Regions from separate parts of the Homo sapiens genome. Here region 1 is linked to region 2. A link means that fine-mapping ties the variant in region 2 to the expression of a gene that starts in the linked region. Tissue or cell type: subcutaneous fat. Region 2 holds a variant in brackets; the other region holds the start of a gene. All regions are shown on one strand. Distances are between the middles of the regions.

Evidence for each region. PIP is the estimated chance that this variant, and not a neighbour inherited with it, causes the effect.
Region 1: SLC67A2 starts here. The variant in region 2 is the best candidate, but not a certain one, in a credible set for the expression of SLC67A2 in subcutaneous fat (GTEx, PIP 0.51).

What each region holds. Positions count from the first base shown.
Region 1 is chr2:102,731,538-102,738,950 of GRCh38, forward strand. SLC67A2 (solute carrier family 67 member 2) reads right to left here and starts at 5,351. Exons shown (of 6, transcript NM_032718.5): 1 at 5,109-5,351; 2 at 785-872. The coding sequence starts at 5,273. It also overlaps a transcript of TMEM182 not described here. RefSeq lists a silencer at 5,258-5,467.
Region 2 is chr2:102,708,717-102,715,280 of GRCh38, forward strand. It overlaps SLC9A2 (solute carrier family 9 member A2), which reads left to right. Exons shown (of 12, transcript NM_003048.6): 12 at 1-2,639. SLC67A2 (solute carrier family 67 member 2) reads right to left here. Exons shown (of 6, transcript NM_032718.5): 6 at 5,914-6,564. Among named protein-coding and RNA genes, the nearest start is that of SLC67A2, 25 kb to the right of the region's middle. RefSeq lists an enhancer at 1-78. The variant G/T (reference allele first, on the strand shown) is at 3,814.

The DNA of each region.
Region 1 (7,413 bases), 23 kb after region 2:
TACAGAGCTCTTTTACCTCCATTATCATGCAATGTGCCCTATCTGATTTTCCCAAAAACCTTCACACTGCTGGGTGGTCCAGTGTAATTCCAAGTACATTTGTCGAGGGAAATACAAATCACGGCATGGACCATGATTTAACAAATATTATGTACAAGACTGTCCACAAACACTTGCTTGTTTGGCTTGTGAATGATCAAGAGCTGTTAGTCTCAACAATTTCCCATTAGTTAGCATAGTCCTAAGCCCTGCTGTCTCTTGCCTTTTTGGTAAATCAATGACTTCTGGATGGAATTTTTAAGCTGCACAGGCAGAGAAACTCTACAATATCTATGATGTGTTGGTGACGGTGTGAGAAGCTTGCAACTAATTGGCTAATGTTCACCGAAACCCTTTCCCACGAGATGTGATTTCTGTAGATTATGTTTCCCTGGTCTCTCACATTAGGTTAAGGGTTCCTGTAGGCAGGAGTCCACATGTACCTACCCTTTTATACACACAGCCAGCTCCTTGCAGAGGCTCCATAAGTACCTGTTGCCACTAGTGGCATGGGACTTGGTTATAGTGCTCAAATCTCAAAATCTCTTTGAACATACGTCGTCTAGAAAAAAAGGAATTGCATTTGCTATAGGGTAATATTTTAAAATATTCTGGAAATTTGTTTTATCTCATTTCCCACTTACCTTTGGATAATATTTGGATACAAAATTGAATTGTTTTCAGGTACTTGGTTCAGAGGATTTAAAATTCAGTGCTCTAAAAATGAGCAATATCGACCACTCACCTACTATTCCAGCAACTGTTGGACTTGCTCCAAGGGACTTGACATGAAGGCTCAATAAAGGCACAACCATGCTGACACCAAACAAATCCTAAAACAAAATAAATGCTGATGGACTCAAATTAGTATTTTTCAAACTAGTAAACCTAAAAATTTAAACTAATTTAAAAAATAAAACCAATATCTAAAATTTTAAACACGTAAGAAATCATAATTGGATTCCATAGCATGCCATACAAATCCGCTGCCACTTGCAAATGCCTGGATTAGTCTGACCTGGGATCCGTTTTAACTTTACACTCAAGGAGGATATGCTACAGAAGTTCCTCAAACAAAACAGACAAAAAACCCCATATTTTCTGTGGATAAGTCATAAGAAAAAATGCAGTCATAATTTGTATTTATTGGTGAACCAGCACTTGCTTAAAAATATGTTTCCTTCTGGAGTTGGCGAAAGTGGCTAATGTCCTAGGACCTGTAGTTTATAAGCTTATAAAATAATACCTGAGAAGAAAGGCTCAGTAAAGCAAGAAGGAAGAAGCTGGTGCACTAGGGAAAGGCCAGTGTTTTGCAGCTAAGTCATAGAAAGTGAATGGGCTTTGGGGTCAGGCAGACAGTTCTCAATTCCACCTCCATCACTTACTAAACATGTGTCTTTGGAAAGCTACTTAAAGTTACCAAGCTTCCGTGCTGTCATCTGCAAAGGGTAGAACAGTAATACCTGCCTGGTAGAAATATGATGAGCATTAAGTGGCATAATGCTTGAGAAAGGCCTAATAAAACAATGTAAGCTCAAACATGTCTTCTCCCTTCTTCAGTTCTGGGGATAAGGACAGGTCCTTTTTGCTAGGTATTCTGAGTTAATAGACAGACTGTTAACTTTTCTTTTAATTTTGTTCTTATTCTCACTAGGTTACCTGCTACAGTTGGTTTAGTGGGAGAAAAAACATTGCACACACACAGTTTTCATTATATTCGACCTGAATTCCTTCTTTCATACAGCTGGTTAGTTGGAAAGAAAGAACTCGCATGAAATATGTATTTTCCTTGAGCTCAGAGTTAATCTTTTGTTCCCCCTTCCCTGTCCTGGTAGCTGTACATTCATATAACTATAGATACATAAATTTCCACATACTCTTTTCAGTGGGCCTTTTCCATGGTTACATCTTTAGATGACCCTGTTATCTAATATCAAGTGACTATAATTAGCTCTTAAAATTACATTACCAGAGTGATGGTTTATTATTTCAATATTGCCATTACTTAAAATTTCCTTTGGGTCTGAGTCCATTTCTTTTGGGCTTTGCTGTCAGTTGCATCTCATCAGCCCACTGATGTTTACACATTTAAAAGACTCAAAATGTACCAGCCACCTATTGAATCTTCTGGATCTTTCAGAAAAGGAAACTCAATTGTCCAATAACCATTTTTTTCCAAAAAAAAAAAGTCCCAGTACAACATATCATTTAATAAAATGGGTATCCTAAATAAGAGATGGAGAGAAATATTTAGGTCAAGAGACTGAGCTCTATGGAAGGTAAGTATGAAAATACAGACTCAAAGGCAATAACTGATGATTGGTATTACTTTAGCACTTGGTGAGTCTGAAAAGTACTATATTCTTCCAAGGAGACTGGCCACTGAATCTTTCCTCTCAGGAAGTTCTGTTCTAAAATTGCCTTCTCCTTTACTATAAAAGGCAACTCCTTTCTGCTTCTCAATCCATAGCTTCTTCAAAATCGCTGCATTTGGCATCTGGTCATGTGCATGTAACCACTTGTAAAAAGATCATGTCAGAAGGGGCCACTTAAACTTTCACTGAATATCAACATTTTTCAATAAAAATTGATGAATATGTACACTCAAAAGTTTCAAGACTCTTTTCAGGGTAGGAACCCCAGTAATTATTGATTACTGGACTATCTCAATGAAAATGAATTATCACCTGAATAAAGCTGATGGGATGGAAAACAAATCTCACCAAGTATCTGGAGGAAAAAAGTGGTTGAAATAATAGATCTCATCACCATCTAAGCATCCTAAACAAAACGGGCCTCAAGGGTCATCTTGGTCTTCCCTCCTAAACAAATTAAAACTTGGAAGTACGGATAACTGCTAAAACAGAACAATTTGGCAAATGACTTCTCTAAGCTTGTTCCCTTCCTCTCCCATTCAGAAACCATTTGTCCAAGAATCTTAGAGGTCTCTACATCCCTAAATATGTCAAAAAAAAACTAAATTATGTATAATGTTCCTTAGATGTTACCTAACAATCATCTGTTAGGTAGCTTTATGTGACTTTCATGTAAAGCTTCATATATTTAATTGTTTACAATATTTTCCATTAAAAAAATCCCTACTCTTTCAACTTTTGGGAAACCATAAACTTTTCCCTTAAGATATGAGACACCTAATGGTTCTCTTGAATACATTATTAAAGTTATTAAAATTCTGTATCAGGCTTGCTAGATTAGACTTGCCAAATACACAGCATAAAGAAAACATATGATAAATTGTGAATATTCAAATCTGTATTGGAAGGCTGACCTTAACAAATGATCTGCGAATTGCTTTGTTTTATTCTAATACTAAAACTACTTTGAATTCTAAGTCAAATTCTCTGAACCCTAGTCTGGACTTTCCAGGTAAGGGCTCAAATGTTTTCATCTGGCTGAACCAGCCCAAGTCCCTTCTGAGACAGGACAGCAGTAGCTTGGGACCCATAACTAAAAAGGCTGGATGTCAGCCAACTCCTCTCCAAGAACCACCCATACTCACTGGTTGTGAATTCTAGGTGCCTAGACTGAAAAGTAGAAGAAGCATCCCCATGCTGAGAATGAACTACTAGATTAAAGGAATAGTGGTCAGAAGGAGTGCCAGTCTCTGAAGTTAAAGGCATGGAGCTGGAGGGTGGATCCTGCAATGGCCTAGAGGCAGAGAAATCCTCTCTAAAAAGCCGCCCTCCCTGAAGACCTTGTGTTTCTGGGCTTGCAGCAATTTGATGAACATGCTTTCATGGTGATCTTAACTATTAACTCAACATAGAGTTGCTACCAACTGAACGCCTTGCATGGAGGTGGTGGCATGGAGAGTGCATGAAACTGGGAGAAGTGGTGGTCTTGATCTGCATCTGGGCAGAAAACGATGACTCCCTGCCAGGGCCCAGTGCCATCAGATACTATCTTCAAGGCCTCAAAGGCAGCCTTCTCCCATTGACACTTATCGCAGCTTCCTTACCCTCAAGATACTGGATTAGCTCACACTCAGGGCTGAATCAGGCCTAGCCTTGGAAAGGGAGGAGTGCAGAGGTGGATCTAGGGTTCTTGCAGATAATGGCCCAGAAACTACCAACATCAGCTTACTTGTAAGACTGAATTCTTCTGTGGCAGAACTGTGGATTACAATAGTGAAGCTCCGCAGCACCTGCCACATGGCAGGTGTTCAGAAATGCCATGAATCAGCTTACTAAACTTTCCATTCTACGTGGGAAATTAGCACTCAGGGAGCAAACCAGGACACGCGCGCGCGCACACACACACACACACACACACGATGAAACCAAACCGCCATTGTGCAATGCACACCCTTTGTCCAAAGGTAGATGGGTACAATTCACTCTGATCTGCATTTTTAAACATTCAAGTCAACCGAGAGCTCTAGTGAAAATGCACCCAATTCTGTACAAGTGGGGTCATCAACAGCGGCTTCTCCAGCCTGGTCTGGTAAAAAAGCAAACCACAGGCACACACATCATGATGAAACCAAACCTACGCTGTGCAATGCGCAGTTTGTCGAAAGGCAGATGGGTAAAATTCACTCTGATCTGCATTTTTTAATATTTAAGTCAACCAAGAATCCTAGTGAAAATGTGCCTAAATCTGTCCAAGCGGGGTCAAGAGCGGCCTCCCCTGCCTGTTCTGGTAAAAAGGCTTGCGTGTCCCTACCTCACCAGCAGCCGCACAGCAGCTGGGCTTTTCCAAGCTTGCCCACACCCCTGTTCTCCGCCCTGCAAAAGCTGCACCTGCCACAGCATTTAACACCTGGTCACACCTGAGGTTGGTACCAGGGCTTCTCAAAAGGCAGGGAAGGGAAGACGTTCCGCGAACGGGGTGCAAGAGAAAGCGCGAGGGGCAATAAAGCAGTGTGGCCAGATGCAGACTGAAGTGGGTGATAGGGCAAGAGGAGAGCTTGATAGGTAGTGAGGCACTCACCAGGCGGACTGCGGGTTCCCACTCCCTGGGAGCTCCCCGGAAGCTCCAAGAACCGCCTGGGTCCCCAGGCCCGAACACAGTCAGCACTTGCTCCCAGCCCCCACGCTCGCACTCACCAAGAAGCCCACCAAGTAGAGACAGAGCAGGAAGCGGCGGGCTCCGACGGCACCGGAGTCGGCAGCCTCCGCCTCGGTTCCTGTCTTCTGCTCCTGTTTCCGCTCTGCGGTCTCCGAGACCAGCCTCGGGGCCGAGTTCATGTCCCAGTGACCCCCAAGCTCCATACCCGCGCCGGCCGGGGGTCGGACGCAGCAGCAGCCGCGGACCTACCCCGGGAGCCCAGCCCCGCCCCGAGCGGAAGCAGGAGGCGCGCGCCTGCGCAGAGAGAGGGGGCGGGTGCTACCTGGCAGCTCCGCGGGTGCGTGGCCGGTGCTGGCTGGGAGTTCTGGTCTCAGGCAAGGTGGGGACTGGGCACATCATCAATACGGTAAGCACACACCAGTTTGTGATGATAATGATGATGCTCTTTGTTTCCTCTGGGTACAGACCCTGCTGCCCCTATCGTTGGAGGACAGGAGGGAATTGTATTGAGCTTCACTTCCTCCTATGGAGTTGTGCTAGGAGGTGACCAACTCCAGCTTGAAGATCCACAGACCCTGGCCACCAGTTGGTTGTGACAGACCTAGGATACGTTAACGTGGCTCTCCAAGCTTTCGTTTGCCTATTTAAAAAGCAGTAGGAAATAATGTAGTCCAACTTCTAGAGGTGTGAGAATTCTACACATGCTTCTTAAGATCCTTTCTGGTGCAGTGCAATGTGAACAAACCATAGATGGTCTATGCCTGAGTTGAGATTACAGTCTCATGGAGTAAAAATAATAAGCACGCAGTAAATAAACATAAATAAAAATACTAAACATGCAATGAAAAAGCATAAAATAAGTAAAATAATATGGTGATAATATAAAGAAGCACGGTCTTGATGTGGAAAGTAATGAGGTGGGGAGTGAGCTACTTTAGAAAAGCAGTTTGGAGGAGGTGACATGTAAGCTGAGAAGAGTGGAAAGAAGATATGTGTGGCTGAAACTTCCTCATCAAACTGAGAGGTCAGCAGGAGTGCAGACCATTTAGGACCCAGAAGGCCATAACAGAGATTTGGGGTTTATTCTGAGTGCAGTGAAAGGAATTAAGTGAGTGCATGACACCAAAAGATGCCTTTAAATTACTTAGCAAAGCCCATGACACATGGTAAGTAATAAATGTTAACAATAGTGACTAGCCCCTCTTTTCTTTAGAACTTGTTATTTATTCCTCTTTCACTGTGGGATCAAGAAGACTCTGACATTTTACTGAGATTTTGCTCAAAATCTCAATTTACTTGTGTAGGTTGCTAATTCTGAGATCTGTTAAATTCAGTGTTGCAAAGTTTCTCATGGGAGGTGGCACTGAATAGGGAGAAGTGGAATACTGATACTTAGAATTAAGACATATAATTGAATCCAGGTGAAACTGTCAATCGTGAACCCCCAAGTTATTCTGAGACTCCTTTGCAGGAGAACTAGTTTGCTCTCCTATAGCTGAGGAAACTAGTCTTTTTGTGCTTGAAATTTTGTGAGTAACTCATCTGGGAAAGGCGCCTTGAAAGGGCTGCTCATGTTAACCCATTAAAACCACTCACTGTGGCTACTAAATACATAGCTAGGGTGAAATTTTAGCATGCTCTGGTGACAGGTACACATTATAACCTAGGAGGACATCTCATACACGCCAAAAGAATTGGAAGTCACGGCCAGGCGCGGTGGCTCACACCTGTAATCCCAGGACTTTGGGAAGCCAGGGTGGGCAGATCACAAGGTCAAGAGATCGAGACTATCCTGGCCAACATGGTGAAACCCTGTCTCTACTAAAAATACAAAAAATTTAGCTGGGCGTGGTGGTGCGCGCCTGTAGTCCCAGCTACTTGGGAGGCTGAGGCAGGAGAGCTTGAACCCGGGAGGCAGAGGTTGCAGTGAGCTGAGATCGCCCCACTGCACTCCAGCCTGGCAACAGAGGGAGACTCTGTGTAAAAATAATAATAATAAAAGATTTGGAAGTCTCTGCTAATATATAATCAATGTAAACTTTAGAAACCTGGGGGAGAGATTTCTAAGGGTGTCAGACAAAAAAAGGGAATAATATAACACTAAATTAGGCAGAATTCACTAGTATAGATGCATTTACAACATATACCGATGTAATATGTTAGCTTGTGCAGCTGGAGGCAGCTCTAGTAGTTTAGTCAGTTGGTTGAAATTTAGACTCAAAGATGGCCTATATTTAATGATGTTCAGATGCCAGAGTTTTCCTGGCAAAATGTGGATAAAGGACTCCAAAAGTTTTGGAAAAATGACAATGTCAGAGTGGATTTATTATGTATGACTTGCAA
Region 2 (6,564 bases):
ATTATTTGCTGGCCTGAAGAGAAAAAATGGTAATGTGTGCCTTTATTGAACTTGAATGACAGAACTTGAAATTTTTAACACATCCTTCTTGGTGAAGATTTTAATATATTACTTATATGCTTCAAATTTTATTTATGAAAAAATATGTATATCTGTAATCAGTTGTTAAGTGAATGGCACTAAAAGTATCGAGAACAGCTTTCTTTCCCAGGGGTGAAGGATGGCGCTCGGGGGTGACTCCTAAGCTCAGCGTGGAAGCTTTTCCCTGTCCTGACCCGATGGAGCAGCCGGTAAGTGAAGAGCACAGCTGGAAGCAGAGACACCTTATGACTCAAACTGGGCAAACAATCGGAACGTCATGCAGAAGGAATGGCCTGACTCCTGCAGTGCAGATTGGAGGCCCCAGAACTCCTATGAACTACTGAGAGTCTACTGGTTTTTAACTTGTTCCTCTGTCTACTGTGTGTTTGGGGGTGACATCTAAATTCCATTTCTTCTTCTTGTTTAAATGGTGCAGAGAGAAAGGTTGCCCAGACATCCACCAGCTTACTGTGTTGACAGATTTGGGAGCAGCTTTTGATGAAGTTCCACCCATGAGGGTCCATGTGGCAAGTAGGGCCACAGGGCAGCACCTGGTTACAACTTGCTGGTGGGTTTTATGTTGTGCAATACTAGGAGGAGGAGGCAGGTGATCTATGCTGATCTATGATCACCTGCTTCAGTAGAATTTTTCTGTAGAGTGTTGTTTGAATTTTGAGCCTCCAGGTTAGAGGCTCCAAGCAGACAAAGAAGAAAGTTTGTAGACACAATATTCTAACATTGCACAAGTTGATGAGATATCAAGTTTTGAATATTATTCAGGAAGCACTTTGGAGAATGTGGGAGTCCTACTGTTTTGCACTAGTCTGTAATTTGTTACCTCTCCCCATTCGATAATATAGTAACTCAGAATTTTCATATAAAATTGAATTCTACTCATTAGAGTACTTTTTAAAAGTACAGCAGAAAGAAAAGAAGTGGAACATAAGCATTCAAGATTAATATTTGATTCTCTATCTCTTAACTGTAGATTTTATTGGCCTGTTTTTTTTTTCTAAATAATTCTTTAAAACTTGACTGGAACATGCCTCTGCATTTCTGAGTGTAGAAATTAAATGAAGCCACTCACAGTCCTTTGATTTCCCACTGAAGATACCCCAAAGGATGCAAGTGCCTACAGTATTATCAGGAGGAGAACATGAAAATATTAAGACAAAAATCCTCAGCAGTTGTTCTCCACCCCTTCTCCACCTCCACCAGCAAGGAGAAGTCAATCTACACTTTTTTCTCATGTTCTAAAGTCTTAGAATACTGCTGGATTGTTGAGCATGAGACAGAGCAAAGGTTAGATACACAAGGTACAAGTTCATAGGAGCACAATTCCTTGATTCAGGGAAAGTAGCACAGAATGCAATTTGAAAACTACAGGCTTAGGACTCTGTGCCAAAAATCTCTATTTTAAATGAAAATATTTATATAAAAATACATTTATTCTGCTTAACACAAATTAAAACTGACATAAAATTTTATGATAATAACATGATTCAAGAAATGTGATGTAGATTTTTGAGAATGCCAAAAATCAGGTTTCAGAAAAGCTACAGTATGAAATCTGAAAAGCAACAGAAATTGAAAGTGACCTTAAAGAATAAATTTCCTAATTTTTCCCAGTTTCCTATGTTTATAACTATTATAAAGAGTTTAACTTTCTGGAACTGAAGGAGAAAACATGAAAATGTTTATATTGCTTCTTGTTAAGCAGGTAGACCAAATTCCGCTTTCAGTAATTCATCCATACAGAATTTGGATGACTATGTATAAAGGAAAACTTAAATCTTAATTATTATCAGTTTAAATTTTTTTTGTTTGTTGAATGACAAAGGCAATAAAAATAAATTTGACTTTAGCTTTTTTTCTATACTTTCCTCTTTTTGTAATTCTTAAATTCTAGTCACTAGTCATTATGAGAGTATTGACTAAATATTTTCACAATCTAAATATTGTCACAATCTAAATTTCTGTAGTAGAGAGAGCCGTAGCCCTTTGTAAAGGCTTTCGTTCGTCCAAACAACACTTGATCCAACCAAAGTTCCAATGTGACTGTGGATCTTTGATAGGTCTTTGGTGTTGGTTGTAACAAAATTTGATTTGAACTACCTATAAATGAAAAGTCGGGGTTTATTACTTTATATGTAATGCTGAGAGGAGACTGTTGGGAACAGTTATGTCAATGAGCAAACTAGAAATTGGCTTCAAAGTCTAATACTTTTAAAAGCATGTGTTTTGTGTATATGCTCACAAAATGTCTGTGAAGAGATTTCTTTCAGCTTTTGCTCAGCTTTATGGTGGGGTGTACTGTTTTATCTGGGCGGTGAGGGTATTGATTTACATAAAAACTGTAGACAAACACAGTACGAGTCTCAGCACGTTTTGCATTTATTGTACTGCCCAAATTGTTTTTATGTTAAAAGTCACGTTTCATAATCTGCAATATTTTTGTCAAAGTGCACACTGTACTTTCTTCTTAAAAACGTGATTAAAGAGATCACTTTGTCCGGATGAAGCAGCTGTTGGCATTATCCGCTGAGGCTTGAACACCACGTGCTGATTCTCTCATCAATCTGAAAAATAACACTCGTGGCTCAGAACACACAAGGTTAAAGTGTGTGGCGCACTGCTACTTTTTATCTCACTTTTTAACCAACCCTTTCTTCAACCCTCTTCTAAGGAAAGCAGAAGTCCCCTTTGGGTACCAGCTGTGTGGCATAACCATGGCTCCTTGTCCCTGACAGATGACACCTTCCTTTAGAATCCACCAGCATCATCCACTCTGCGTCTAGCTGACACCCTCAGACAGGGATCAGCCACCCTGGGGCGTGCAGGTCAAATATGCAGATGGGGACTTTGCAGACCACTTCAGTGTCACGCTGGCACATCATTTTTGATCCTTTTTCCTTTTTAAACTTCCTGCACCTTTTCAGATAAAATCATATTTTACTATGTATAGCTAATAAATCGTAGTTTTGTTCTCTTAATCGCATGGTCAGGAAATGAGTTTTTCTAGGTGTAGAGTTAACCTGTCTACTGTGAATGGATTATTATCAACTTTTCAATCTACACAGCATAGAGATTATTTTGATGGCTCAGAACATACGTCAAGAACTTTCAGTATGTGCAGAGGTTGTATGGGAATCTGTTGTTCTCCTACTGGAGGGTACGGAAATGTCACTCCATGAGATGCCCAGCAGACAGAATACCAGATACAGAGGCTGTGATTTTTCTGATTTCTGGAACAAAACATCTTGAATTAAAAATTCAGACATTTTAATCCTTTTTTATTTTATTGGCTCCTGCTGAGTCATAAGTATGACTGGAGACTAAATTTCTAATTTAGATGAAGCTCTTTGTATCCACTTAGGATAACCCTGCTTACCAAACAAATTTTGTATATGTACACGGACAAAGGAAATTTTTCCTTGTTTCTATGAAAAATCTTACCAAAGTTTAAATATTAAATCACATGTAAACCTTTAATCACTTATGGAGAAAATAGTACATACATGAAAACAGAACAGTCCCAGTTTTTGTATTTGTGTATGAAACCACTCTCATTTATGTTGAATGGGATTGTGATGGCTAGAATTCTTCAAAGGTAAGAGCTTCAGAGTATTGAAAATTTCAATTCTATTAATTCCAAATACATATATCTCAGACTAGGCTAACTCTATTACAGTGTAATAGAACGTGATTAGAGGAATAAACATTTTAATTGGT[G/T]CATTAATTTTTATATCTAAAAAGGCTCTGCAAAAGGGCTCAAAAATGGTGTATGCTTTTAAATATTAAATACGGCCTTCCCATGCAAACGTAAAGAAAAGAAGTTAATTCCAATTATTGCCTTAATAATTTTTAAAGATTATGCAAAGATGTGTATTAACACATCAAATTTTAGGTTTCCATGAATACATAGTTTGGCATCTGATTAATAAATAATAGATTTGCTACCATAACTATGTCTTACTATTGAACCTTTAGTTTAAGTCCTGACCTTTAGCTAGAAAGTTATTTTGAATGGCAGTAACAGTTCATCATGCTTTCAGTGCTATTCACTCCAAAGAGATGCACAGTGAAGGTACTTTGAAGGTGCCCCAAAGAAAATGCTCACCCTTGTCAGTGACGTCACAGACTGGGCCTGACAGATGTTAGGCTTTGAGATGGCCAGGCCTATGCTTCAGCCCCACAGAACAGACTACTTAAGGCAAACACCTACCAAGTCGCATACATACAGCCCCACAAGGGTCCAGCCCGAGTCAGCGGCAGAACACCTTTATTAGGTTTGCTTTGGATATTTCATGTGGTTTCAATTTCATTAAGCAAACTTGGGACAGGTTTAGGTAGGTAAGCTATCACACAAAAAACTAGTTCTGTCTGGATAAGAGGCTGTGTCTCAACTACTCAAAATGGCATGGAGATTCTTTGGTAAGCTTGAAGGAAGACTGTCTCCTATCCATGTTATAAGTTGCAATCATTAATAGGTATTTTAACCACTTTCTTCCTCTACAGTGGATGCTTAGAAAAAAGAACTGTATCAAGATGTAGTATAAAGACTGATCAAAATACAATTCTTTGTTCAAACAAGATCCTTACAGTTCATTCTTACGCTGTGTAAGTTATCAGCAATAATTAACACTCCTTCCTTAATGTTTATAATTATCTTCTCCCTGGAAGGAACAATACAAGCTGTGTTAAGTCACTTTTAAAAATAAGAATCAGTGGCCAGGCACCGTTGCTCACGCCTGTAATCCTAGCACTCTGGGAGGCAGAGGTGGGCGGATCGCCTGAGGTCAGGGGTTTGAGACCAGCCTGGCTAACATAGTGAAACCCTGTCTCTACTAAAAATACAAAAATTATCTGGGCGTGGTGGCGCGTGCCTGTAGTCCCAGCAACTCGGGAGGCTGAGGCAGGAGAATTGCTTGAACCCGGAAGCAGAGGTTGCAGTGAGCCAAGATTGTGCCATTGCACTCCAGCCTGAGCAACAGAGTGAGACTCCATCTCATAAATAAACGTTTCTTATAATATACTGAAACAGGAAAACAGAAGTTTTGCTTTTATTGTTTTAGTAGACAGCTATCTATAAAATGGTGTTTAGATACCTGTTTGGGAAAAATGAGAGATCTAAGTATTTGTGCATCTGCTTAACTAGAAATAAATCCTACTGTGAGATGTTACCTTAAAAGTACAGTTGACCCTTCAGCAACACAGAGTTGAACTATACAGGTCCACTTAAACGGGGATTTTCTTCCATCTCTGCCACCCCTAAGACAGCAAGATCAATCCCTTCTTCTCCTCCTCCCCCTCAGCCTACTCAAAATGAAGGTGGCAAGGATGAAGACCCTTATGATTCCATTTCCACTTAATAATATTATTTTTCTTTTTCTTAACATTTTTTCTCTAGCTTACTTCATTGTAAAAATACAGTATATATGTAACACACAAAATACATGTCAGTCGACTATTAATATTGTTGGTAGGGCTTCATGTCAACAGTAAGCTATTAGTAGTAAATTTTTAGAGAGTCAAAAGTTACACTCAAATTTTCTACCGTTTTGGGGGCTTGGCACTCCTAACCCCTGTGTTGTTCAAGGATCAACTGTCCTCTACTTACTGGCCTTCAGTATAAATGTCAGATTACATATATATTTGGTATCTGCATAATGGTTTTAAAAGCCAAAGCCTTGTTTTTAATATTAAGATGTGTTCTAGCATACTGGAGATGACATTTTTCAAAGCACTTCTGGATCCTGAATTGAAATATGTAGCAAGACACATCAGTGACTTCTAAAAATACAACTTATAAGAATAAATGACAGTTCCTCATTACAATTATAAAGTTTTATTTTTGAAGAAAATTATCATGTGACTGGCAAATTCAAGAAAAAAACATTAGAGCTGAAAAAAAGTTATTTTAATCCATCAACCTGTTCCAAGAAAAGCTGCTACACATCATCCTGGCTAAATCTGTGGTAACCCTGTTTTAGAGACTTCTTGAAGGCTACTAGGGGGCAAAGAGGCATGGAGATTCAGTCTCATGGCTTTTATTATGCATTCCAAATAAATAGCTGTTTTCTGAATGCAGTTGCCCAAATGCCTAAAATTTTCTGACTGGACTGATTCTCACTCCTGATAGATTTCTAAATACCTTATAGAAGTGTCTTCAGGAAAAGACGCCAAGCAACCCTTTGAAATTCCTCAAAGCTGCACACTCATCACCTGGGAATTATTCACAACCTCTCCTGCGATTGCCCTGTGGGCCACAACCTCTGCCTGCTGTCCCTGTCCTCGCGACCAGCTCTCCCTCAGGGCCCCCCTAAAGTTACTGCCCCAAAGTCCAGACTACTCCTTGGGCCTCCAGTTAATCCTCCTTGCTGCGGCTAGAGAGCTCTTTCTAAAACAGGAGTGTCTTCACAGCACTTTACCGCAGGAATTCTTCCGTCATTCCCCTTCATCCGTCAATACAATCTCAACCCG